4 linked regions of the Homo sapiens genome follow. Each later gene encodes a partner of the first gene's protein in a complex. Each region holds a gene or a part of one and is shown in the gene's direction. Other genes may lie near its edges. The genes, in order: CCNC, MED26, MED18 and MED23.

Evidence for each region.
Region 2: CCNC (region 1) and MED26 share a complex: the UniProt entries of both Homo sapiens proteins name them as parts of the mediator complex.
Region 3: CCNC (region 1) and MED18 share a complex: the UniProt entries of both Homo sapiens proteins name them as parts of the mediator complex.
Region 4: CCNC (region 1) and MED23 share a complex: the UniProt entries of both Homo sapiens proteins name them as parts of the mediator complex.

The regions. Positions count from the first base shown.
Region 1 is NC_000006.12:99,544,659-99,551,692, reverse strand, and holds part of CCNC (cyclin-C), read left to right. Parts: exon of another isoform or gene 1-664; coding exon 665-700; exon of another isoform or gene 701-1,100; coding exon of another isoform or gene 1,101-1,124; exon of another isoform or gene 1,125-1,383; coding exon 1,384-1,475; intron 1,476-2,117; coding exon 2,118-2,185; intron 2,186-2,293; coding exon of another isoform or gene 2,294-2,304; exon of another isoform or gene 2,305-2,381; intron 2,382-3,308; exon of another isoform or gene 3,309-3,396; intron 3,397-5,218; coding exon 5,219-5,298; intron 5,299-6,462; coding exon 6,463-6,581; intron 6,582-7,034. UniProt on the Homo sapiens protein: Component of the Mediator complex, a coactivator involved in regulated gene transcription of nearly all RNA polymerase II-dependent genes.
Region 2 is NC_000019.10:16,576,175-16,583,208, reverse strand, and holds part of MED26 (mediator of RNA polymerase II transcription subunit 26), read left to right. Parts: intron 1-4,394; exon of another isoform or gene 4,395-4,799; coding exon 4,800-4,874; intron 4,875-4,935; exon of another isoform or gene 4,936-5,043; intron 5,044-5,526; coding exon 5,527-7,034. UniProt on the Homo sapiens protein: Component of the Mediator complex, a coactivator involved in the regulated transcription of nearly all RNA polymerase II-dependent genes.
Region 3 is NC_000001.11:28,332,034-28,336,493, forward strand, and holds the end of MED18 (mediator of RNA polymerase II transcription subunit 18), read left to right. Parts: intron 1-2,383; coding exon 2,384-2,937; 3' UTR 2,938-3,932; downstream 3,933-4,460. UniProt on the Homo sapiens protein: Component of the Mediator complex, a coactivator involved in the regulated transcription of nearly all RNA polymerase II-dependent genes.
Region 4 is NC_000006.12:131,590,213-131,597,246, reverse strand, and holds part of MED23 (mediator of RNA polymerase II transcription subunit 23), read left to right. Parts: intron 1-558; coding exon 559-729; intron 730-1,083; coding exon 1,084-1,300; intron 1,301-2,911; coding exon 2,912-3,148; intron 3,149-4,075; coding exon 4,076-4,241; intron 4,242-4,786; coding exon 4,787-4,859; intron 4,860-5,719; coding exon 5,720-5,934; intron 5,935-6,804; coding exon 6,805-6,925; intron 6,926-7,034. UniProt on the Homo sapiens protein: Required for transcriptional activation subsequent to the assembly of the pre-initiation complex. Component of the Mediator complex, a coactivator involved in the regulated transcription of nearly all RNA polymerase II-dependent genes.

The DNA.
Region 1 (7,034 bases):
GCTTTTACCATTTAAAAAAAATACTTCATAGTGGCGATTATCAACCCTGGCTGCTCATTAAATCACCTTGGGAACTTGTAAATAATACTGATGTTGGATCCTTTCCAGAACAACAAAATCAGAATTTTCAGCCTTGGGGCTCCCAACATTGGTACTGTGTAAAAGGTCCCAGGTGATACTACTATTTAGCTGGGATTAAAAACTAATGGAACAATATGAAATATAAGGTGAATTTCTATTGACATTTTAATAGGTATGTCCTTTTTCCACCTTGCAAGGGATTTGTTTATTCTCTTTAAGTTACATTTTTTAAATTAAGTAGAAATAATTGTATTTTTGCATTTGCTGAGTAGAAAGTATACTGGAAAATCTGATGGTTTTACAGGATATTTTAAATAAAAGTGAGTAATAAGAATGATTGTGAGAAGCTGGCTTTTCCTTACAAGGATTAAAATCCTTATAATCATAATTGCATTTCTAATAGTAATTTTTTATTGCAGATATTTATTTTAATATAAACTATGTTTATTGTCTGGATTTTTAAAACTTTTTAGTAAAAATTTTTGATAAATTACTATAATGTCTGTAATTTATGTTAGATTAAGTGGACTTATCTAATTTGGTTTCATATTGACATTTCATTGATAATCTTTGTTTTAAACAGATATTAGAATGTGAATTCTATCTGTTAGAACTAATGGTAAGTAAATCTTCTGTGATTAATAGATTAAAACATTTTTAAATTAAATGAAGTTGGAAATTATTTAAAGAAATGATTTTAGAGAGGTACATTTTAAAACCATCCACCTAATATGTGATGGTGAAATCATGGTAGCCTATTTATATTAGCACCTAGAGTCTCTCTGAAGCCTGTAAAATAATTTGTATATCCTACTTAGGATGGGAAAATTTTTCTGTTCTATAGTAAGTAACTATAATGAAAGGATTACAAACAGACAAGTCAGGACATTAAACCACCATAAATTATGTGCACAATTTGTGTGTGCGTGCAGTGTTATTTAAAGATAGATTATGTCTTTGGCAGAATTCTGCTCCTCCAGTTGGGAATTATGAATTTATAGGCTAATAAGAGGTTTCAGTGTGTTGCAGATGTGACACTTTGAGTCTCTAAGGGAATGAATGGATGCTGACTGACTGCCAACCGATTTATCAAGGTATATTCCAGAGAGAGCACTGCCTTCACTATTACGGTAGAGTTTAGGGCTGTCATACTGCTAGCTTAAGAGAATAAAAGGGAAGCAAGCATGAGTTAGTGAAATTCACTTTGAAATACACAATTACAAATCAGTTGGGTAATGATAACATTTTTGTGTTGTAATAAATCTGTTTTTTATACATACACATTTTTTAAACTGTTTCTAGGATTGTTGCTTGATAGTGTATCATCCTTATAGACCTTTGCTCCAGTATGTGCAGGACATGGGCCAAGAAGACATGTTGCTTCCCCTTGCATGGTAATTAGAACAGAAGTTATTAATAGTGTAACATGTTATTAGATAGGAAGGTTGACAATTAAATATGAAGTTAAGTATTTTTAAAGTCATTAAACTATTGCCCCAAGATATTTTATGTTGAGCAAAATACCACTTGTTGAATTTTAATAACTATAGTGGTGTAAATGCCAAAATGAAAACAATCCTAAATTATCTGTTCCATAAATATACCTATTAAAATTTAATTTTATACAAAACACAGACTGTTAACATAAAAATTAAGACTGAAGTTATCTTTAAAGTAATCAGAATACTTTTTGGTAGTCTGCAACATACATATAAATTTACTGTATAATTTCTGGTTTTTTAATTTGATTTTTCTGATTTTTAAAAAATTAGAAAAATGTGTTTATAATTTGTTATGAGATTTTGAAATTTAAAATATATTTAGCTGTAATTTTATTCATTGATATGTGCTTATTTGTTGTCACATTCATGTATCCATCCTTTTGCCTTGATGTTTTCACTTTTATAGCTGTGCTTCAGTAGTATAAAAGGAAATAAATGTGTGCAAAGATGGGAAATCTGGCCCTCTCTGGAGGAAATATACAATCAGATGAGGTAGTTCTGCTTTCAGTAATAATATGATTTACATTTCTATAGGAGGATAGTGAATGATACCTACAGAACGGATCTTTGCCTACTGTATCCTCCTTTCATGATAGCTTTAGGTATGTAAGCATGGTGTGCCTTTATGAGTTAAATTGTTATAAACTTATTTAGGTCATCCTAAACTAAATTTCACCCTATTGTACTTTATGTTTTTATGTTCCATGAAGTAATAGACTAATCCTTGCATGTGAGCTTTCAATAATATGAACTGCAACTGTCATAAATCAGGATTATTATTCCCCCACCCCCTTTTTGGTAAGTTTTTTTTTTTTTTTTTTGAAACCATTCAAAATAGTTTTAATCGGTGTCTGAATAGAACATATTTGTTTGTTTAGAGGGAAAAGTTCAGAATTAAGCCAGCTAATATTAGTTGTAGCATGTAAAATAATTGGGGCTTTCATATCCTGAGCCCAAACAAATACTCAGAGGTTGAGTAAAGGAGCATCTGTGGTCCATAATGCTTGGCTGGAGGAAGACGTTAAGTACATTCATTCTACAGTCTGTGGAAAGCAGTGCTGTAATGGGTGGAGTCAGATAGTCCTAGGCTTAAACTTTACCTCCTTTACAATTGTGGGAAAATTATCTGACCTTTCCGTGTTTGTTTCCTTAATTGTAAAATGGAGAGAATACTAATAATTCCACTGAGCCGTTTGAAGAATTAAATGAGATAGGTTGTAGAGCACCAAATAATGCCTGTTATATATTGGGCACTTGTTAATTTTTGTTCCTTTTCCTTCTATTGATTTTTTTTTTTTTTTTTTTTTGAGATGGAGTCTCACTCTGTCTCCCAGGCTGGAGTGCAGTGGTGTGATCTTGGCTCACTGCAACCTCTGCCTCCTGGGTTCAAGCGATTCTCCTGCCTACAGGAGGATTATAGGTGTCCACCACCATACCTGGCTAATTTTTGTATTTTTAGTAGAGACAGGGTTTCGCCATGTTGGCCAGGCTGGTCTTGAACTCCTGACCTCAGGTGATCCACCCTCCTTGGCCTCTCAGAGTGCTGGGATTACAGGCGTGAGCCACTGCACCCCAGCCCCTTCTATTGATTTTTATAACTCCATCCTCTTGATTTTCCCCTCTTATTTTCCATTGGTTTGTCTTTGTTCAGTTGTTCAATTATTCCTTAAATGTTGATGTTTCTTGGCCTTCTTACATCAGGGCTGACAAATAGGTTATACTTACACTTCTGTATTACTGGCAGTTCCCTGAAAGGACTGGATTTGAAAGGATTTTGAGTGGTGTCCTACCCAGTGGGTAGGAATACTGGGATCTGCATAGGTAGGAAGGAAGGGATAACAGAACATGTGTCACATCTTTGCCATCCCTGCTGTCTTCTTCTTGGGTACTTTAACTGAGATTCATGGCTTCTACTATCACTTACATGCCGAAACATTTAAATCTCTTTATTTAGCCAAGATCTTGCCACTTGGCAGTTCTTTATATCCATCTTCCTTTTACATAGCTCCGCTTGGCATCCCACCAGCACCTCAGACTCATGATGAGGATTGAGCTTATCACTTTGCCCCAAAATATGTTCCTCCTTTTAATGTCTTTGCCAGTTTGGTGAATAGCACTAGTTATATACCTTAGTTGGAAACCCAGCAGTTAGGCCCTTTCATCTCCCTCAATACCCACATGTAGTTGTTTACCAGTACATTTTGTGCCTTCCTCTCGATTGTTCCTTCTGTAATCTCATAGTCATCTTCTCATTTCTATCCATGTTACCACAGCAGTCTCCTAACTGGCTTATTAGCCTCCAGCACTCCCATCCTCAGAGAGCCTGTCTATCTTCCAAACTGTTGAGCTAGGCTAGTGGTTTCACCTGGGGATAATTTTGCCCCGAGGGGACATTTGGCAATGTTTGGTTTTAGTTGTCATAACTAGGGTAGGGTGCTACTAGCATCTAGTGGGTAGAAGCCAGGGATGCTGCCAAGCATCTTGTAGTATTCAAGACAGTGTCAAAGAATTGTTCAACCTAAGATGTCAGTAGTGCCAAGATTGAGAAACCCGGAGCTAGCCAAATTCGTCTCCCAATTGATATACATACTATTCTCTTCTCCCACTCTCATTTTTTTTTTTTGTAAGACTTGGCTTAGATATCAGCTCTTCAGTGACCCTCCCCCACCCTTTCAGCATCACCTCAGTCTGGGTTTAGGATGCTTCCTCAATCTTCAGTGTACTCTATGCATGCCCATGTTAATAGCATTGTCCACTGTATTTTAATTTCCTGTTTTTATCATGTCAGTCATTTGGTTTTTTTTAACCTCTTCTTGACCTAAGCCCTACTCATAGCTTTGCTTGACTTAGGGCAACCAGTGTGTCAGTTCACATTTGAGTTGCTATTTGCCTAGAATGTCATCCTTAGCAAAGACATGGATAACCAGACCACGGAGTATAACTTAAGCTGGAGTGGGTTAAGGGTATACAGGCTGCTCAGTAGAAATTGTTTTAGGCAAAATTATGATGTAGATTCCTCTCTTTTGTTAGTTTATATTGTATATAACATATATAACTAATATTGTATACAGTATATTACATTTATTTTCTAACCTTTATTTGATTACAACACTGAATTCTGTAAGGATGTGCCCAGCTTTCACATAACTTGATCATGTGCTAATAATGAAAAGGAAGAAAAAAGGCCAGGCAACACTGCTTTTAACTGAAATGTGGAAACACAGTCAACATTGTTAAAACCTAGTATATTAATTAACATTTTTGTTTGTTTTGTTTTGTCACACTGACTTCTGGGTGCAGTTTAACGGCTACTTTGTACACTACTCAGGGATAACTTCCCTTTTCTGCTCTCCTCATTGGATGTTTTTCCTCTTTAACGTGCCTGACTCTCAAGGCAACTGCACCATGACTAGCACGCAGTGAGGACCAGATGTCAAGAACTTGATGTAATCTAGTAATTTTTTCTGTCTCGGATTACATTGATGAGATGGTCAGTGGTAACTCTCATATGTAGCTGTTTAATGTTTTTTAAAGAGTGTTGGAAAATACACAGGAAATAGTGAAAAATCTTTGTTAGATCATATATTCTGTGTTTGCAGTTAAACATGGACAGTTGTCTCTCATTTTCATTTCAGCTTGCCTACATGTAGCCTGTGTTGTACAGCAGAAAGATGCCAGGCAATGGTTTGCTGAGCTTTCTGTGGATATGGAAAAGGTATTCCCTTAGTTGTATGTAAACTTGGATGTTTAAAAATTAATGTCATATTTACTTATCATGAGCCTAAAATCTTGTGATGTCCACCAGGCTAAGAAGATTATTGGTTACAAAATATTAAGAAACATGGGCTGGGCATGGTGGTTTGTGTCTGTAATCCCAGCACTTTGGGAGGCCTAGGTGGGCGGATCACCTGAGGTCAGGAGTTCAAGACCAGCCTGACCAATATGGTGAAACCCCGTCTCTACTGAAAATACAAAAATTAGCTGGGTGTGGTGGCATGCACCTGTACTCCCAGCTACTCGGGAGGCTGAGACAGAATTGCTTGAACCTGGGAGGCAGAGGTTGCAGTGAGCCAAGATCGTGCCACTGCACGCGAGCCTGGGCAACAGAGCGAGACTCCGTTTAAAAAAAAAAAAAGTTTGGTAGGAAGAGTTAATGCTGATTATTTAAGTTATGTATCTCTTTTCAGTTTAGGATTAAACAGAATGGTAAACTTTTGGTTTAATTGGTTGCAAAGTAGCCTCTCATTCCCAGGATTATTTTAAAAGCTCCCTGGTAACCACTGAATACTACTGTGAACTTCTGTAACATAGCCTATCTCCTGGCAGAATGGCTTTTGCTGTGTTTCTAGCTTTTCTGCTCAAGTGTTAAATGCATTAAAATTAATCCTAAGGTTAGGTTCTACTCAGGTGGGAAAAAAATAGCTAATTTGTTAACTAGTTGTTTCAAATTTGTAGCTGCCAGTTTTTGAGCACCTTAATGTATGTGTAGTAACAGAGAATCAAAACATCTTTTGTGCACTACCCCCGATTAAGTTGTTTAAAATAATTTATACTAGAGGAGTGTGCTCTATAGTGGTATATTCCCTCATGATTAGAACCTTTATTCTTAGTATGTTTCAGTTTAAAAGATACCATCAGATGGAAGGAAATCAGCTGCAGAGATAGATAAGAATGGACAATGCACACATGCTGAAAAATGAGATGCTAGAAGGAAAATCCTAAACAGCACTGTGGTGAAAAATACTGCTTTCAAATTTATCAGGATTTAAGGACAGAGACTATTTACTGTTTTCTGAGGGTTGTGTAGTGATGTATGCTCTTTATATAAAAAATGTTGCTTGTTTTTGCCACTGAGAACTTTTCAAATATTTTCTTCTAGATTTTGGAAATAATCAGGGTTATTTTAAAACTATATGAGCAGTGGAAGAATTTCGATGAGAGAAAAGAGATGGCAACCATTCTTAGTAAGATGCCAAAACCAAAACCACCTCCAAACAGGTACTTTGTAGACTTTAATTATTGATGTCATTTAATCATATATCATACTTACTATATTTTTCTTAGATTATGTTGTTTTGTAGTTTTTAAAACATTTCTTCCAAAACTTCATGATCCATGTTAATTTTATTTTTTAAATTTGTGATTTGATTGAGAATGTCTCATTTAAAAAAATCACTAATCTGATTAGTAACTTTTCCTAATGCAGTGGAGGTATATTACAGGTATCTCTCAACATATGGTCATATACCATAAATTTAAAGCTGACAGAATTAGGTAAGTTCATCTGAAATTCAGGGCAGAATTCAGAACTATAGTAGTTTCATGTCAGTTTGATTCTGTGCCATCTTTTTTTTTTTTTTTTTTCACTGCTGGCTATTGTCCTGTTTTATAAATTTCAGTAGCAATTTTCAAAAATTTCAATGAATGATCTGATATTGTAAAGATAAAGAA
Region 2 (7,034 bases), on another chromosome or scaffold:
CTCAGATGTGCCAGGCTATTCCTGACAGCAAGAGGCTGCAATTGGCCATCGGGCCACAGACATGGCCCTGGCAAGCCTGAAGAGCTGCCTTAAAGCCATCTTTTGAGGCCATCGCCTGGAGCGGCTCCCCATGTGGAGTCAAACTGTGTCTGTGCTGAGATTAGGATCTAGTGTACTTCCCCAGATAGATGGACAGGTGCCAAGGGCATCCCAGAAACAGGGCAAGGGCAGGTGGTCTGTGGGGGCAGTCGCTAAGGGGGATAGAAGACAGGTTGTGAAGGAGCCACCTTGGGTCTTTTGGGTCTGTTTTTCCTCCCGGTGTCCTTACCCATGGCCTCTCCCCTGCCGCAGGGCTTTGGTGCTGTCTGGCCAGCTCCCTGCCCATCCTTCTCCAGCTCTTTTCTGCTTTCCAGCATGGAAGTCGGTCTCCAGCCCAGGTGGACACAGCTCGTTCTGCCACATCCTTTTTTGACCTCCCTGGGAGGCCACCTTAGGTGCTGCCCTCCCCCTGTGGCCTGCCTCCCTGCCCTGAGGGTTCATGCTGGACTTAGCAGGCCTGGAGTCAGAGCGGGAGCCTCCCCTCAGCCACATACGAGTCCTGGTGTCTCTGTCACTCACAGAGGGCCACCTCCATGAGAGTGGGAGACCTGCCACTCCTGGGTGGGGGGTCAGTTGGTTGTTAAGGCAGGGTCCCCAGGGCCAGGGTCAGAAGCCAGCTCCTATTTTGCTCCTATGGGACCAGCACCAATTGGGTGCTAAGTGTTCTTTGGGACAGACTGTGGCCATCTATAAAGAGGCTCTGTGGAGCCTTCTGGCTCAGTGTGCCTGGGGTCGGGGCCAGGCCCTTTGCAGGGATTCCTCGCTGCATTGCTCAGTGTCTGCCTCCTGGGCCTGGGAGGCCTGTGTCTGGATGCCCAGGTGGTGCTCCCCACACAGTGTTCAGACTGCTTGACATCAATGCCCCAGAGGTCGCAGGGCAGGGCAGTCTCACCTTGCCCCCATCCTTAGCTCTGCTGACATCACTGACTGCCTTCTGCTGGCTCCAGGGAGTGGCCGCACTGGACACTCACCCTCTCTCTGTGTCTTACACAACACACATTTATCATCTCAGGCTCTAGGGCTCAGAAGTCAGCTCCAGTCTCACCGGGCTGGGATCCAGGAAGCAGCGAGCTGCGCTCCTCTCTGGAGGATCCATTTTCTGCCCCTTCAGGTGTTGGCAGAGTTCATCTGTTTACGGCGTAGGACTGTGGGTTTCTAGCACCTTACAGGTAGAGCAGGCGGGCTCCTCTACTCCTCAGGTGAGCAGCTCACACGGTGGGGACAGAAAGGGGACTGCCAAGGCTGTAGCATTTCCCTTGGGGCTCCTAGAGGCTGAAGGCCTCTCTGCACACGCTTAAGCGTGGCTCATAAGGCAGGGGAGGGGCCAAGGGTAAGGATACACAGTCACAGGGCCCTCACACCTTCGCCTGGTGTCCCCAGCTCCCACACAGTTTCCAGGAGACTCTTGGGACTGGCTGTTAGTTCAGCGGTGATTTCTGGGGCACCAGCTCAGTACCAGACCCTGGGGTTGCCCAGGTGTTCTGTCTCCTCCCTCTTGTCTGGCAGCAGGATGGTGTCTGCCCAAGGACAAGGACACTTTGTGCCACCAGGCTAGCTGGGTCTGGGCAGTGTTCTGCTCTGCAAGGACTGCTGCTTCAGGAGTATGTGGGGAACCAGGGCTCCAAATATACCAGGGTGAGGTCAGCAGGGTGGAGGTGAAGCCATGTGGCAAGCCCAGGGACTGAGTCGGTGCTGGAGTGCCTGGGGCAGGGAGTGGTTGGCCTTGCTGTCTGTCTGGGACTGGCCTCCTCATCGCACAGTCTTCCCCTGCACTGATCCCTGCCCATTGCACGAGGAGTGCGGACAGGACTGTATCTCCCCTCATATCACCCGTCCACCCCCACCATGACACAGCTTGAAGCAGGGTTTTCAGGGTCATTTGGAGCCCTGAATGGAGAACATTGCAAGGCAAGGCCGTTGTTGCCAAAGAGCAAATGGGCCCATTGGCAGGGCAGCTTTGTGGGAGTTCTGCGGGGACTGCTGTCGTGGCTCTGCAACTTTACACCCAGAGGAGACAACACGGGAAGGGAGGGAGTGGCAGTGGCTGCCTCCCACTGGAAGTGGGGCAGAAGAGTAGAAAAGCCAGAATCCATGAGGCCAGCAGAATTAACAGCCCTCAAGGACGTCCACATTCTAGTCCTGGAGCCTGGGCACATGGTACCGTACATGACAGATGTGACTAAGGGAACAGCCTGGAGATGGGGAGGTGATCCGAGATCATCTGGGCAGGCCCTGCCTAGTCAGGGAGTCCTTAGAGATGGCACCTATCCTGGCTGGGTCAGAGAGATGCCGGGTGAGGACTCAGCCTGTAGCTGGCTTTGAGCATAAGGGGAGGGGGTGTGAGCTGGATGCAGTGCCCTCCAGAAGCTGGGAATGGCTTCGGATGACAACCAGCAAGAAAATGGGCCTCATTCCTGTAGTGTAAAGAGCTGAACTCTGGGCCGGGTGCAGTGGCTCACGCTTGTAATCCCAGCACTTTGGGAGGCCGAGGAGGGCAGATCACCTGAGGTCAGGAGTTCAAGACCAGCCTTCAACATGGTGAAACCCTGTCCCTACTAAAAAAAAATACAAAAATTAGCTGGGCGTGGTGGCGGGTGCCTATAATCTCAGCTACTCGGGAGGCTGAGGCAGGAGAATTGCTTGAACCCAGGAGACGGAGGTTGCAGTGAGCCGAGATCGTGCCATTGCACTCCAGCCTGGGCGACAAGAGTGAAACTTCATCTCAAAAAAAAAAACAAAATAAGAGCTGAACTCTGCTAACACCTGAAGGAGCAGGAAATGGATCCTCTAGAGAGGATCCCAGCCCAGTGAGACTCAGACCTGATTTCTGAGCCCTAGAGCCTAAGATGATAAATGTGTGCTGTGTAAGATGCTAAGTTTACAATCATGTGTTACGGAAACTCTTGCCACGCAGTCTTGGCAAGGATGTGGCCTGGTGGGAATGGAATAGAGCAGCCTCCCTGGGGGTGAGGTGACCACCCTGCATGGATGTGGAGCCCCAGCTCCTCCATGGCTGTCTGTGCACTAGCTCAGAGTCAGGTCTGTCACTGCCGTCGGTTGCAGCCTTATTTTGTAATGGCGGACGGAAAGTGCCTAAGTGTCCCACAGCATTCAAGTCGGGCCTTCCCCACTCTGGAAGGGATGGTGAGCCAAATGAGGGGCTCTGTTTGAGGCTGGACATTGCTGACATTAAGTCAGAAAAGGCAAGAACCACTGTCAGTTTGGTTTTGAAATATGTGATAAGTGTGGATGTATACGCCTATATACACAAGGGATATTTTTGGAAAAAAATGCAAGGAAATGCTACAGTGGCTGGGTCAGAGATGCCCATTTCCTTGTGTGCCCTTTTATGCTGTTTTAATTTGTATCATGTGCCCGCTTAACTCCTTTATCATGTTGGGGTGGGGGGGAGTTGAGTAATCTACTCACTGTGGTTTCCTCAGGGCCCCTGGGCTCCCACCCGCTAGCCAGCCCACCAGAAACCTGTAGTTGCTGGAGGTGGTGGTTGAGTGGTAGGAATTCTTGTTGTAACAATTAAGGGAGTCAGTAATGTGTGGGAAGTGCTTAGAACAAGGTGTGGCTCCTAGCAAGATCCTAAAAGGGAGGGATTACTTGGTCATGGGATGTGTTCATGCTTCACTCTGCCAGACAAAGCCCAGCAGTCCCCAAAGTCAGCTGTATCCCCCGAAGTACCTAGTGTTGTCAGTGGGGCACGTGTATCATGTATCCATTTGTGGGTTCAGTTTGAGTTTTCCTGATTATCGATAAAGCTGAGAGGCTGAGCATCAGCACTGACATTTCATTGCCGTGTGCCTGTTCCTGTCTTGTGGCCAGTCTACGCCGGGCTCCTGGTCAGCTGTACTGCTGTACAGGCATTCTGTGTTCCAGATACAGCTCCTTGGGGGCCTGTGGCCTATGCCTTCTCCCACTTTGTGACTTTCTGCTCTCTTTATGGTGTCTTTGGATTCAGATTGACTGGTTTATCATTATTATTATTATTATTATTTTTTACACGGAGTCTTGCTCTGTCACCCAGGCTGGAGTGCAGTGGTGTGGTCTCAGCTCACTACACCCTCCGCCTCCCGGGTTCAAGTGGTTCTCGTGCCTCAGCCTCCCAAGTAGCTGGAACTACAGGCGCATGCCAGCACACCCAACTAATTTTTGTATTTTTAATAGAGATGGGGTTTCACTGTGTTGGCCAGGCTGGTCTCAAACTCCTGACCTTCTGATCCGCCTTCGTCAGCCTCCCAAAGTGCTGGGATTACAGGTGTCAGCCACCGCGCCTGGCCTGTGTATTGATCTTTTAAGCTTTGTGGATTTTATTCGATGAATTCTTCCGTGTCTCCTCTCCCACTCCCATCAGATGGCAGAGTAGAGGTCATCTTAAGTATCAGGAGCAGCTCTTGTTCCACAGGCATCCTGGGTTTCAGCAGGTGGGTGGGTATGTACCATGTACACTGGAGGGCTTGGGGCAGCCCGCACACCACACACTGGAGGAGGTCAGACGGCAGGTGAGGATGAGCACTGGGTGCCAGGTTGGCCCAGGGAGCAGGTAGGAGACGACATGGAGTGGGGGCTTCAGTGCTGCTGGCTCCTCTTGCTCTGGGGTTGGGGAGAGACTGGAGCAGGCTGGGGCAGGGTGTTCCAGCCTCCCAGTGGAGAAGGACAGGGACCTGACAAATGGCTTTTTATTTCCACAGATCCGGAACATGGTGGCGGTGCTGGAAGTCATCTCCAGCCTGGAGAAATACCCTATTACCAAAGAGGCACTTGAGGTGAGTATCCCAGACCCCAGCATTTGGGAGGGCAGAACGGGGGGCAGGGGATGGTACCAACCAGGTCCTTCCGCAGCTTCTGGGAGCATCAGTGTCTTTGCTTCGGAGGACCAAGAGAGGCGGTGTGCCCTCACAGCTCGTGCCTCGCGATCTTGCTCTCCCACGGGCACTGCAGAGACCAAGTGGTGTTACTCCCATCCTACATGCCCAGCACACTTCGTGGGCACGTGGGGACATCAGGAGAGGTGTGCTTGGAGGAGGCTCCAGTGAGAGGCACCATCCCCAACCCTCCACTTGAAGCGGACCCTCTGTGCTGTCGCCTCGGCCACAGCACCCTCTCACCCAGGAAGCCTCTCTGGCAGTGTCCTTACAGTGGCCTTGATGGTCCACAGCCCCCTGACACCAGGAGCCTGGGTGACAGCACTGCTGAGAAGCCACCTGGGACCCTGAAGGTCTGGGAACTAGGTTTGAGAATTTATATTGTCACAAAGGACCGGAAATCCCCAGAAGTTTTGTGTCAGGGAAGCTGGCAGTTTAGGGCTCAGTGGGAACCGGGTCATTTCACTGTCAGGGCCACTTCCCACCATTTCTGGCTCAGCTCATGGAGAAGTTCCTGTCCCGAAAGTATGTCATCATCTCCCTCTGGTTGTAGGAAACACGACTTGGGAAGCTCATCAACGACGTCCGCAAGAAAACCAAGAACGAGGAGCTCGCCAAGCGGGCCAAGAAGCTGCTGCGGAGCTGGCAGAAGCTCATCGAGCCGGCACACCAGCATGAGGCGGCGCTGCGGGGGCTGGCGGGGGCCACCGGCTCTGCCAACGGGGGCGCACACAACTGCCGGCCGGAGGTGGGGGCGGCTGGCCCACCCAGGAGCATCCATGACCTGAAGAGCCGCAATGACCTCCAGAGGCTGCCCGGGCAGCGGCTGGACAGGCTGGGCAGCCGCAAGCGCCGGGGTGACCAGCGTGACCTCGGCCACCCAGGGCCGCCACCCAAGGTCTCCAAAGCTAGCCACGACCCCCTGGTCCCCAACTCATCCCCCCTCCCCACCAACGGGATCAGTGGGAGTCCAGAGAGCTTCGCCAGCTCCCTGGATGGCAGTGGGCATGCAGGCCCAGAGGGCAGCCGCCTGGAGCGTGACGAGAATGACAAGCACAGTGGCAAGATCCCCGTCAACGCCGTGCGACCGCACACCAGCTCCCCGGGCCTGGGCAAGCCCCCTGGACCCTGCTTGCAGCCAAAGGCTTCGGTGCTGCAGCAGCTGGACAGGGTGGACGAGACTCCGGGGCCTCCCCATCCCAAGGGACCCCCTCGCTGCTCTTTCAGTCCTCGGAACTCACGGCATGAGGGCTCCTTTGCCCGGCAGCAGAGCTTGTATGCACCCAAGGGCTCCGTGCCCAGCCCCTCACCGCGGCCCCAGGCACTCGATGCCACACAGGTGCCGTCACCGCTTCCACTGGCACAGCCGTCCACACCCCCCGTACGGCGGCTCGAGCTGCTGCCCAGTGCGGAAAGCCCAGTGTGCTGGCTTGAGCAGCCTGAGAGCCACCAGCGGCTGGCGGGGCCGGGCTGCAAGGCAGGGCTGTCCCCAGCCGAGCCCCTCCTGTCCCGGGCAGGCTTTTCCCCAGACTCCTCCAAGGCGGACAGTGATGCTGCCTCCTCAGGGGGCTCGGACAGTAAAAAGAAGAAGAGGTACCGACCTCGAGACTATACGGTTAACTTGGACGGGCAGGTGGCTGAGGCGGGCGTCAAGCCTGTCCGGTTAAAAGAGCGGAAGCTCACCTTTGACCCCATGACGAGACAGATCAAACCTCTGACCCAGAAAGAGCCAGTGCGGGCAGACAGCCCTGTGCACATGGAGCAGCAGTCCAGGACAGAGCTGGACAAGCAGGAGGCCAAGGCCAGCCTCCAGAGCCCCTTCGAACAGACGAACTGGAAGGAGCTGTCACGCAACGAGATCATCCAGTCCTACCTGAGCCGGCAGAGCAGCCTGCTCTCATCATCGGGCGCGCAGACCCCAGGGGCTCACCACTTCATGTCTGAGTACCTGAAGCAGGAGGAGAGCACCCGGCAAGGGGCCAGGCAGCTGCATGTGCTGGTGCCTCAAAGCCCGCCCACGGACCTCCCTGGTCTGACCCGGGAGGTCACACAGGACGATCT
Region 3 (4,460 bases), on another chromosome or scaffold:
CGCCCAGCCAGATTTTGTAAACAAGTATCTGAATATGTTCCTAACATTTGAGCCATAGCCATGGAGGCAGAAAGATGACTAAAAAAATGTATGTCAAGCCAGCTGTTACAGGCTTATGCCTGTAATTCCAGTTGTTTGGGAGGCTAAGGCTGCAGTACTGCTTGAGTTCGGGAATTCAGGATTAGTCTGGACAACATAGCAAGAACTCATCTCTACTAAAAAAAAAAATTAGCTGGGCATGGTGGTGCGCACCTGTAGTCTGAACCACTTGGGAGGCTGAGGCGGGAGGATCACTTGAGCCCAGGGGATGGAGGCTGCAAAGAGTTATAATCACGCCACTGCTCTATAGCCTGGAGACAGAGTGAGACCCTACCTAAAAAAAAAAAACAAAACTATGCCATAAAAATAAAGCAGGAAAGTGGCTAGAGATTGGTAGGACACATACTATTTTATTAGGGTGATCAGAAAAGGCCTTGATGATAAAGTCACTTGAGCAGAGACCTGACAAAAGTGATAGAGTAGACATGCAGATGGGAAGAACATCCTAAGCACAGAGAATAGGAGAAGGGGTGTGGCAGGAAGGTCACTCCTGGAGAGAATGATCAAGGGGAGGAATAGAAGGAGATGATGTTTGGCAGGTAGCAGAGACCATAATATGTAGGGCCTTGTTGACAACGGTAAAGATGTTGGCTTTTATTCTGAATGACACAGGAAGCCACTGTAGTGTCCTGAGTAGAGGAGTGTTATTATCTGCCCAATAATTTAATAGACCATTTGGCTTTCATATGGAGAAGAGAGGAAGAAGGCAAAGGTAGAAAGAGGCGATTGCAAAGACCAGGCAAGAAATGAGGGTGACTTCATTTGAAGGGACTAGGTTGAAGTGACCAGATGAGTGAGAAGTGATTGCATTCTGCATTTATTTCAAAAATACGGATTCAATGGAGGGTATGAGAGAAAGAAAGAGGGTGTGAGTCAAAGATGATTTTCTGGTTTTTGGCCTGGGTAACCAACTAAAAACAGAGAGTTGCCATTTACTGTGATGTTGAAGACTGTAGGGTGAATAAGATTTTGGAGGAAAAAATCAACAGTTTGATATTGAACATGTTAAGATAAAGATGTCTGTTAGGCATCCAAGTGAGGAAACTGAGTAGGAAGTTGGATGTTTTCATCTGTAGTTCAGAGATAAAAACGTGGGAGTCCTCAGGGCCTAAATGATATTTAAAGCCATGGGACCAAATAAAGTCACCTAGGCAGGAAAAGAGTATTGATACAGAAGAGGACCAGGATTGAGTCCTAGTCCTCCAGTGTTTGGGGAAGATGAGAGAGACCAAGCAAAGAAGACTTAAACGGAATGGTCAGCAAGTTAAGTGAAGACAAGAAAGTTGTGTCTCAGAGGCCAAGGGAAGAATAGATTTCATAGTGGGTATAATCTACTGTAACAATTATGTCAGATGTTGCCAAGAGGATGAAGATTCTATGAAGCAATTCACTCTCTTCTACTTACATACAGAAGAGGAAAACTTTTCCTGATAAAAAGGAAACTTTAGCCAGGTGCAGTGGCTCCATGCCTGTAATCTCAGCACTTTGGGAGGCTGAGGCAGGCGGATCACGAGGTCAAGAGATCGAGACCATCCTGGCCAACATGGTGAAACCCTGTCTCTACTAAAAATACAACAATTAGCTGGGCGTGGTGGCACACGCCTGTAGTCCCAGTTACTCAGGAGGCTGAGGCAGGAGAATCGCTTGAACCCAGGAGGTGGAGGTTGCAGTGAGCTGAGATCGCACCACTGCACTCCAGCCTGAAGACAGAGCTAGACTCCGTCTCAAAAAAAGCGGGGGAGACTTTATATTTCTTCTATAAATGGAAGACTTTGATTTGTTGGAAATAGAAGGCAATTGTTAAAATATATAACAACAAAATAGTGTTATTGGCTGGGCATGGTGGCTTGTGCCTGTAATCCCAACACTTTGGGAGACCAAGGCCAGGAGTTCAAGACCACCCTGGGCAACATAGTAAGACCCCAACTCTACAAAAATAAATAAATACATAACTAAAACAGTATTATTACATTCTAGATAGACACTGTCGCTGATTAAAGGCTCTAAGCCCCAGGCCTGCTGGAGATGAGCATTAGAAGAGGCCTAAAGACTTTGTAGTGCTAAATAAGAAAATTCCAAAAAAATTGAAAAGGAAAATAACTTTCTCACAACGTTATACAATACCTTGGTAGTGTAATTTCTGTAAAATCTCATGTTTGGCTGTATGTTTTATGAAATGCTTCACTAAACTGTTTTGGTTTTTCATTTAAGTTTTTTCAATTGTATACTAACTCCATGACCTAAAATGAAAGACAGGACTCAGTGGTGCTTTTTCCGTTTTCAGGAAGTGTTTTAGATCACAGTTTGGAAAGCCTCATCCACCGCCTTCGTGGTTTGTGTGACAACATGGAACCTGAGACTTTCCTTGACCATGAGATGGTATTCCTCCTTAAGGGCCAGCAAGCCAGCCCATTTGTTCTCAGGGCCCGACGCTCTATGGACAGGGCAGGGGCACCCTGGCATCTGCGCTACCTGGGACAGCCAGAAATGGGAGACAAGAACCGCCATGCCCTGGTGCGAAACTGCGTGGACATTGCCACATCTGAGAACCTCACCGACTTCTTGATGGAAATGGGCTTCCGCATGGACCATGAGTTTGTTGCTAAGGGACATTTGTTCCGTAAGGGCATCATGAAGATTATGGTGTACAAGATTTTCCGCATCCTGGTGCCAGGGAACACAGACAGCACTGAGGCCTTGTCACTCTCCTATCTCGTGGAATTAAGTGTGGTAGCACCCGCTGGGCAGGACATGGTCTCTGATGACATGAAGAACTTCGCAGAACAGCTAAAACCTCTGGTTCACCTAGAGAAAATAGACCCCAAGAGGCTCATGTGACTAAGAGGATCTGTCCACATTTGGGGCCTATCCTTACTTGTTTGAAAAAATATGTTTGCTTTTTTTGGTTTTTGTTTTGTTTTGTTTTTGAGACAGAGTCTCGCTTTGTTTCCCAGGCTGGAGTGCAGTGGCACGATCTCGGCTCACTGCAACCTCTGCCTCCTGGGTTCAAGCAATTCTCCCACCTCAGCCTCCTGAGTAGCTGGGATTACAGGCACATGCCACCATGCTCAGCTAATTTTTGTATTTTTAGTAGAAATGGGGATTCACCATGTTGGTCAGGCTATTCTCGAACTCCTGACCTCGTGATCCACCCACCTTGGCCTCCCAAAGTGCTGGGATTACAGGCATGAGCCACCACGCCTGGCCAAAAAAATATGTTTTAAATGTCCCATTTCACCATTGCCAGGCAGGCATTCTTCCTTCAGGGAGAGGATGGTGAGAATTAATTGGTTCTTTGCACTGTTCTCCTCATGTGGCGATTTCACTTTCATGACAGCCTTTCTATATTAAAGGCTCAGGATGTCACGGAGAATCTATCTAATCCCACTGTATTAAGAGGGGAAACCGGGCCAAGCGCAGTGGCTCACACCTCTAATCCCAGCACTTTGGGAGGCTGAGGTAGGTGGATCACCCAAGGTCAGGAGTTTGAGACCAGCCTGGCCAAATGGTGAAACCCCATCTCTACGAAAAATACAAAATTTAGCCGGGCATGGTAGCAGGCGCTTGTAATCCCAGCTACTTGGGAGGCTGAGGCTGGAGAATCGCTTGAACCCAGGAGGTGAAGGTTGCAGTGACCAGAGATGACGCCATTGCACTCCAGCCTGGGTGAGAAGAGCGAAACTCCGTCTCAAAAAAAAATAAAAATGAAGAGGGGAAACCAGAATAAATTATCTTTTGGAAAGGACAATTTCTTGTTTGGCCATTTGTGTATAAGGTTGGTAACATTAGAGGCTGTGAGCTTGTGTTACATGGTAATAAAGCCAATGAAGAGACATGTCTGTGTAATTCTGATTCTTTATTCCCTTACCCTGTAAATTTGGGGTAGATTCATTACCAGTTGAAGCAAAAAAAATGACAGTTCCTAGTTTTAATTGTGGCAGAGATGAGGATGAGAGTTTTCACCTTTCATAAAAGTAGCATATTTATTGTTGAAAACTTTTAAAATATAGTACAGATAGAAAATAACACCTATTATCCAAAGAGAAGTACTAGTTCTATTTTGGTATATATCCATCTAGTCTTTATTTTTTTATAAATTTATGTATATGAAATGTGTTTATTTTATAAAAAGATTCCATATATACTGGTTTATAACCCTTTTTTCCCATTCATCTATCATTAACATCTTTCCAGGACATTTGTCTACACTCCCCTTTTGTTAAAAAAAATTTTTTTTTTTTTTTGAGACAGAGTTTCGCTCTTGTTGCCCAGGCTGGAGTGCAGTACTGCGATGATCTCAGCTCACTGCAACCTCCACCTCCCAGGTCCAAGTGATTCTCCTGCCTCAGCTTCCCAAGTAG
Region 4 (7,034 bases), about 32 Mb from region 1:
CCTCGGCCTCCGAAAGTTCTGGGATTACAAGTGTGAGCCACCGCGCCTGGCCTTCGGGTAGATTTCTTTAAAAAGATATTGAAGTAGGCTGGAAAATGCTACATTGAAAAAAATTCTATGGCGGTGACATTTGGAGTGGCATAGTTTAACGTTAACCCCTTAGCTGTGGAGCATAGATATAAAAGTAGTTATTATATTTTAGGGGGAATAATGTAAGTCTATAAATCAATAAGATGTCAGGATAAGATGGAGGTGTAGAAAAAATATTTCTAGGAAACAGTGAGAAATCTTATCTGCTTAGGTGATAGCTGTGAAAGATAGATTAAATTTTTAAAAGTAAAGATGGACATCCCAGGCAGAAGGAATGGTAAGCCAGAAATAGGCAAGAAAGGTCATATATGTTTGGGGAATACTGAACAGTTGGTTTGGGATAGACTAGACGTCTAAGGAAATTATAATAGTGAGATTTTACTTTGTTAAAATCTAGGCTTTCAGATGGCCCTCATGATTTTACACAGGTTGAACATTTTCATATAATTTTTCTGTTGTTTTTCAAAGGCCATGCGTAGTCACGAAGGAAATGAAGCCCAGGTTTGTTATTTCATAATTCAGTTGCTGTTACTCAAACCAAACGATTTTAGAAATCGAGTAAGTGACTTTGTGAAGGAAAATTCCCCAGAGCACTGGTTACAGAATGACTGGCACACCAAGCACATGAATTATCACAAGGTACTAGTCCTAATTGGTATTTCAAATAGTCCTTTTAAAGCCATACTTGAGTATTTGATGAAGTGATTTGGCCGTTTTCTCTCTGGTTCTAATGTTTTTTCTCTTGTCTATATAGAAGTAAGTTAGCTCTCTGAACTTCTTCAAGGTTTGAGAGTTTCTATAATGTTGAGAATAAATTGAAACTGCAGTTTTAGTGGACATAAGGACTTCTATAAAAAGAAGTAAAGTATAATCAAGTATAATTTTAAATGTTTCCTTGCAAAAAAAAATCTAAACAATGTTTTCACATTTAGCTCTTTTAAGAGAATTTTTTAAAAAATGCTCTAACCATTTATCATCTTCTCAATTCCACAGAAATATCCAGAGAAGTTGTATTTTGAGGGCCTCGCGGAACAGGTGGATCCTCCTGTACAGATCCAGTCTCCCTATCTGCCCATCTATTTTGGGAATGTGTGTCTTCGATTCCTTCCAGTATTTGATATAGTAATCCACAGATTTTTAGAGTTGCTTCCGGTATCCAAATCACTGGAGACTCTACTGGATCATCTAGGAGGCTTATATAAATTTCATGGTGAGCTTTTTCCAATTTTAATTTCGTCTAATACCTCCATTATCAAAAGTAGGATGGGCAGGACCACATGGTAATAGTGGCTCTAAAGGTTTTATTTTAAATATTTTAAAAATGAAGTGTTTTGAGGATAAGTACTATGGATGGTGCCATGAAGTATAAAATATACAACATAAAAATATAAACAAAAGTATGAGTTCAGAACAGGGTGATGTTACTGTAAACTAAACAGATCTTGGCGGCCTTCTTGGATGGGTAGGATTTGGACTTGATGCATCCAATTTATAGCAGCAGCAGGGAAAATATAGCACACGAGGCAGAAGGGATCATTTGGGGGAAATCATGGAGGAGATAAAGTATATTTGAAGAAAAATTGCTACATTGGGTTGAATTGAAAATTCTTACCAGAGAGTTCTAGAAATAAGATTGGAAAGACAGATTGTACCTAACTGTAGATCACCTTGAATGCTAGGCTGATTTTGTAATTGCAGATAATAATCAACTGGAAGTTATTGAGTATGATCATGGCATAGGAAACATTATTTCAGAAAGATACATCCAGTTATAGTTGGCAGCAGTCTTAGGATGAAGCCATTACAAGGACATGTCAAAAAGCTCAGTTGTGTGATTAGTATCTAAGCAACAGTGGTTGCATTGAAAATGAGAGAAAAGGGACAAATGGTCACAAAAGAAGGAACAGGACTTGATTGGCTGGTTATAAGGAGAATATTGAAAGAAAAAGACAACTAAAATTTTAAGCATAGTTACTGGAGAGTGGCAGGGTCAGTGACAGAAATGTGAAGGTCCTGGAGCAGCCACTCTGGGAACAAAGTGTTTGTCTGGCAGGCAGTCCTGCTTCATCTTTAAGATACCTTCCCTCAGAGCAGAAGTATGAATTGTGTGTTAACATGGTAGAATAGGCATAAAGTTCAAGTGAGCGTTCTTTTAAAAACATTTTTCTTTTGGATTAGGTAATATACATACTTGATGGGGTGGAGTATACAGTGAAAGGTAATTAGTCCCATCCTGGCCTCCAGCTACCCAGTTTCTTTCGTAGGCAGCCAGTGTTACCAGTCTCTTGCCATCCCCTCTTAGATATCCTGGCTGGTTTTGTTTGTTTGTTTGTTTGTTTGTTTGTTTGTTTTAACACAAGTGTTCTGTACCCTGTTTGTTTCAACTTTATCATGTATTAGGGTTGGTCATTTGTATTAGTACGTAAAGAGCTGCCTCATACATGCCAGATTTACTTTATCAGTCCCCTGTTTTTGACCTTTTAGGCTGTTTTTCATCTTTCGCTAGTATAAACAGGGCTGCAATGACATCCCTTGTTGTATGTCAAGGGATTAAAATTTATGCAGGATAAATTTTCAGAAATGGAATTGCTTCCACTTAAATAAAAACAAATATAAATACAAACTGTATATTACTAGAAACATTCTGAGCCTTCTGCCTCTCCTCAGATTAAAATATTCATAGTATACAATTGCCCAGCATGTGAAGTTGTTTCATAAATCTTCTGAGCTGTTTTTCAGTTATCTGGAAAGCAGTTGATCAGTTTTTCACAGTTATTAGTAACCAGTTAAACATTGTGGTGGTATGTTTTTTTCTTGGCAGATCGTCCAGTGACTTATCTGTATAACACTCTGCACTATTATGAAATGCACCTGAGAGACCGCGCATTTCTCAAACGAAAACTCGTCCATGCGATCATTGGCTCTCTGAAGGATAATCGACCGCAGGGCTGGTGTCTAAGTGACACTTACCTGAAATGCGCTATGAATGCACGAGAGGAAAATCCTTGGGTTCCAGATGACACCTACTATTGCAGATTGATTGGCAGACTAGTCGATAATATCCTTTTTATTGTGATTTTAGACTCCCAGAAATAACAGTATTTTGATTTATGAGAATATATTTTTTCTTTTAAAGTAATTTTTTATGTATTTCAAGGTTTTAATTTTTTTTAAGATCACTTCCATTTTCATCTCTGTAAAGATTTGAAATCTTAAATTAACAGCATCATGCCAATTAGGCTGAAATTCTGTTAAAATTTTTATTTTAGAACTTGAGGATAAGCGGTAAAAAAATTATATTTAAAAATAGACTTTATGGAGATTTGTTTCAAAGAAAAAATCTTATTCTTACATACTATATTTTGTAGCACATGCATCTGTGTGCTACTGGAGAACGTAGGATCTTGTTACTTTAAAAAAATTAATGTTTGTAGTAAATAATAAATGATAAAATATATTTTTCTTTATTGAAAAGGTATATTTTAGTGAAAATATACTTGGATGTTTATTTCTTCATTTTGATTTTATATTTTCAGTTATTAGCACTCTATACTTAATGTCTATAACCATACCACTATTTTACTAGGTAAGAAATTCTACATAAATGAGCATGACTTATTTTCCTACACAAAGGAATTTATTTTCTGAAGCAAAAGAATGACTCATTAGAAAATAATTTTCATATTAATGTCTTATAACTATTAAAAGAAATAGGCTCATGAAACCTAGGTAAACCTTGGTTGCATCTGTGGCTATTATATGTCATATTTATAAGAACCCACCTGAAAGACCAACCATTTATACCTGTGGTTAATCAAATGGTTGCTTTTAATACATTTCAATCATGTCAAACTCATTTGTATTTGGTTTGCATTTGCCTCTTAATCTCTCTAAGCGTAGACAAATCACTTCTTGGCAGCTCATAATCAGATAAATTGACAATCAGATGAGATAGTCCAATTGTTATTGCTTTAACTGTGTGCACCGATGGCTGGCAAATCTCCTGGTCCCTTTCCAAACTGTGACTGGAGATTCAATGAGTTTCCCAACCCAGCTGCCCATGCTCTCCATGTTACTTGTGTGGAGCTCATGGCCTTGGCAGTTTCAGGCAAAGAAGTTGGGAATGCCCTTCTAAATGTTGTCCTAAAAAGGTATGTATTCTGGTTCATGCAGTAAGATTTGTTGTTTATTTGTAAATAGAATGGTATTCTATTTCAAACTTTTAAGACAAACCTGTTGCCGCAAGGCTGATGCACATTGGATGATGACTGTTTTCTGGTTCCAGATCTTGTCTTTGTGATATAGGAGTTATGGAATGAGCCCTGGACAGGATCCTAAGATCCGGGTTTGTTCCTACTTCTACTCATTAATAGCAGTTTGACATTTAATATAGGAATAATGTTAACTTGTCACTTAAAACAAGATTCTCTTCATCTTGTTTTCAAGATTTCAAGATTCTTTTAAAAATTAGCATGAAGTATGGGATAATGATTGGGGAGGAAGTATTTTTAAAAAGCCTTCTTGAGTTTTTATGCATATTACATTTTTATTCAATAAAAAATTCCCCATTGTTTTATTGAAATGGATTAGTTGTCGATCCTCTGAATTAGACATATTCTTTAAAAATAAGATCCGTTGTCAGCCATCTAAAATGTTTTTATAAATTCATACTTACATTCTTTTTTGCCGGTTGCAGTCAGCCTTTAGTGCCAAGAGAGAACATTACAGCATGGATGAATGCAATTGGTTTGATCATCACTGCCCTACCAGTGAGTTAATAATTGTGATTTGTACTTAGTGATGAAATACAGCCAGCTGTTCCATGTCAGCAAAAAGAAAAAGATGCATATAGGATGCCCTTGTACGGGACGTCATGCAAATTAATGAAGTATTTTATGTTTTTAAAGTTTTTTCATATTATTACTGCTTTAAAAATCTACAGTGACTAGTTTTTGCTTTTCTGTATTAGATCTAAATATATCTATGTGACTTACGGGTCTCTGCATTTTCTGGTACCACCTTACCTATCCAACTTTAGTTTTTACATAATAGCTTGATCTACTCTTGGCCACTTAACGTGTTGTATATCTACAGCCTTTGTTCCTTCAGATAGTGCTTAAGACATGTTTTAGGTACTTCTGAATGTGAGGGAATAAGACATTTTTCTTATTCCAGAAGCTTCTTCTTTCCATCACCTTCTCTAAAGCCTATTCATTCTTTGCTAGCTTAGAGCCTCCTTTCTCAGTGAATGAAGCCTTCCCTGACTTTTCCAGCTCACATGAAGACTCCTTTCTCTGACCTCCACACATATTTTTTTAAAGTTTATTATTTTTAAATAAGTAATAAAGCTATAGATTTATTGTTTGATAAATTAATTGATTTACTGCATAGTGTATATCAGGTACCTAAATGAGCTGGACAGATACATGTATGGAGCCCCTTAACTCACAGTTACTTCTCCCAGGTTGTTACTGACTTAATTTGACCAGTTACAAAGCCACCCAGCTGTATTGTGCAGAAGCTGGAAAAATAGAAAACTTTAAAGAATGAGAAAACACTATTACTTTAGACTTTGGGGTGGAATGCTGGATAAGTGATATTTTTCACTAGCTTTCCTCCGATTTTAAAGGAGCCATATTGGATTGTTCTTCATGATCGAATTGTGAGTGTCATCAGCAGCCCCAGCTTGACGTCTGAAACAGAGTGGGTTGGCTATCCATTCCGCCTCTTTGATTTCACTGCCTGTCATCAGTCCTACTCTGAGATGAGTTGTAGCTATACGTTAGCTCTTGCACATGCTGTGTGGCACCATTCTAGCATCGGACAACTTTCTCTCATTCCAAAGTAAGTATAATAATTTCTTAAAGAAATTTGACGTAGGCTGGGTGCGGTGGTTCATGCCTGTAATCCCAGCACTTTGGGAGGCCGAGGTGGGCAGATCACAAGGTCAGGCGATTGAGACCATCCTGGCCAACATTGTGAAACCCCATCTCTACTAAAAATACAAAAATTAGCTGGGCATGTGGTGTGTGCCTGTAACCCCAGCTACTCGGGAGGCTAAGGCAGGAGAATCACTTGAACCAGGGAGCTGGAAATTGCAGTGAACCAAGATCGCGCCACTGCACTCCAGCCTGGTGACAGAGTGAGACTCCATCTGAAAAAAAAAAAAAAATTGTATTTCATTTTGTTCTAATCTCATTAACAGATGAGGTATATACTTCATTCATTAGAACAACTTGCGGCTGGGCGCGGTGACTCATGCCTGTAATCCCAGCAATTTGGGAGGCCGAGATGGGTGGATCACAAGGTCAGGAGATTGAGACCATCCTGGCCAACATGGTGAAACCCCGTCTCTACTAAAAATAAAAGAATTAGCCAGGCGTGGTGGTGTGCACCTGTAATCCCAGCTAGTCAGCAGGAGAATCACTTGAACCCAGGAGGCGGAGGTTGCAGTGAGCCAAGATCACGCCACTGCACTCCAGCCCAGGCAACAGTGTGAGACTCCGTCTCAAAAAAATAAATAAATAAAAATAATCAAGTGAAAGTAATAGCCAGTGAGAGATGTGAGATTAATTAGAAATATTATTGTTACCAAATTAAAAGGAACTTTAAAAAATTATATTTTATTGTAATACTTTGTATATACTGTATGAACAAAATTCAAACAATTTAAATAATTTCAAGTCACAGGAGATTTTTATCTTCAAATTTTAGGTTTCTTACTGAAGTACTTCTTCCTATAGTGAAGACCGAATTCCAGTTGCTTTATGTATACCATCTTGTTGGACCATTTTTACAAAGATTTCAGCAAGAGAGAACTCGTTGTATGATAGAGGTAAAATATAATCTGGGTTTCCTGTGACATGATTAAATTCTGAAGTATCTATTTAAGTTTCTTTACCAGTGTTATTGAAACTGCAGGTCACAACCATTAGTAGTGAAAC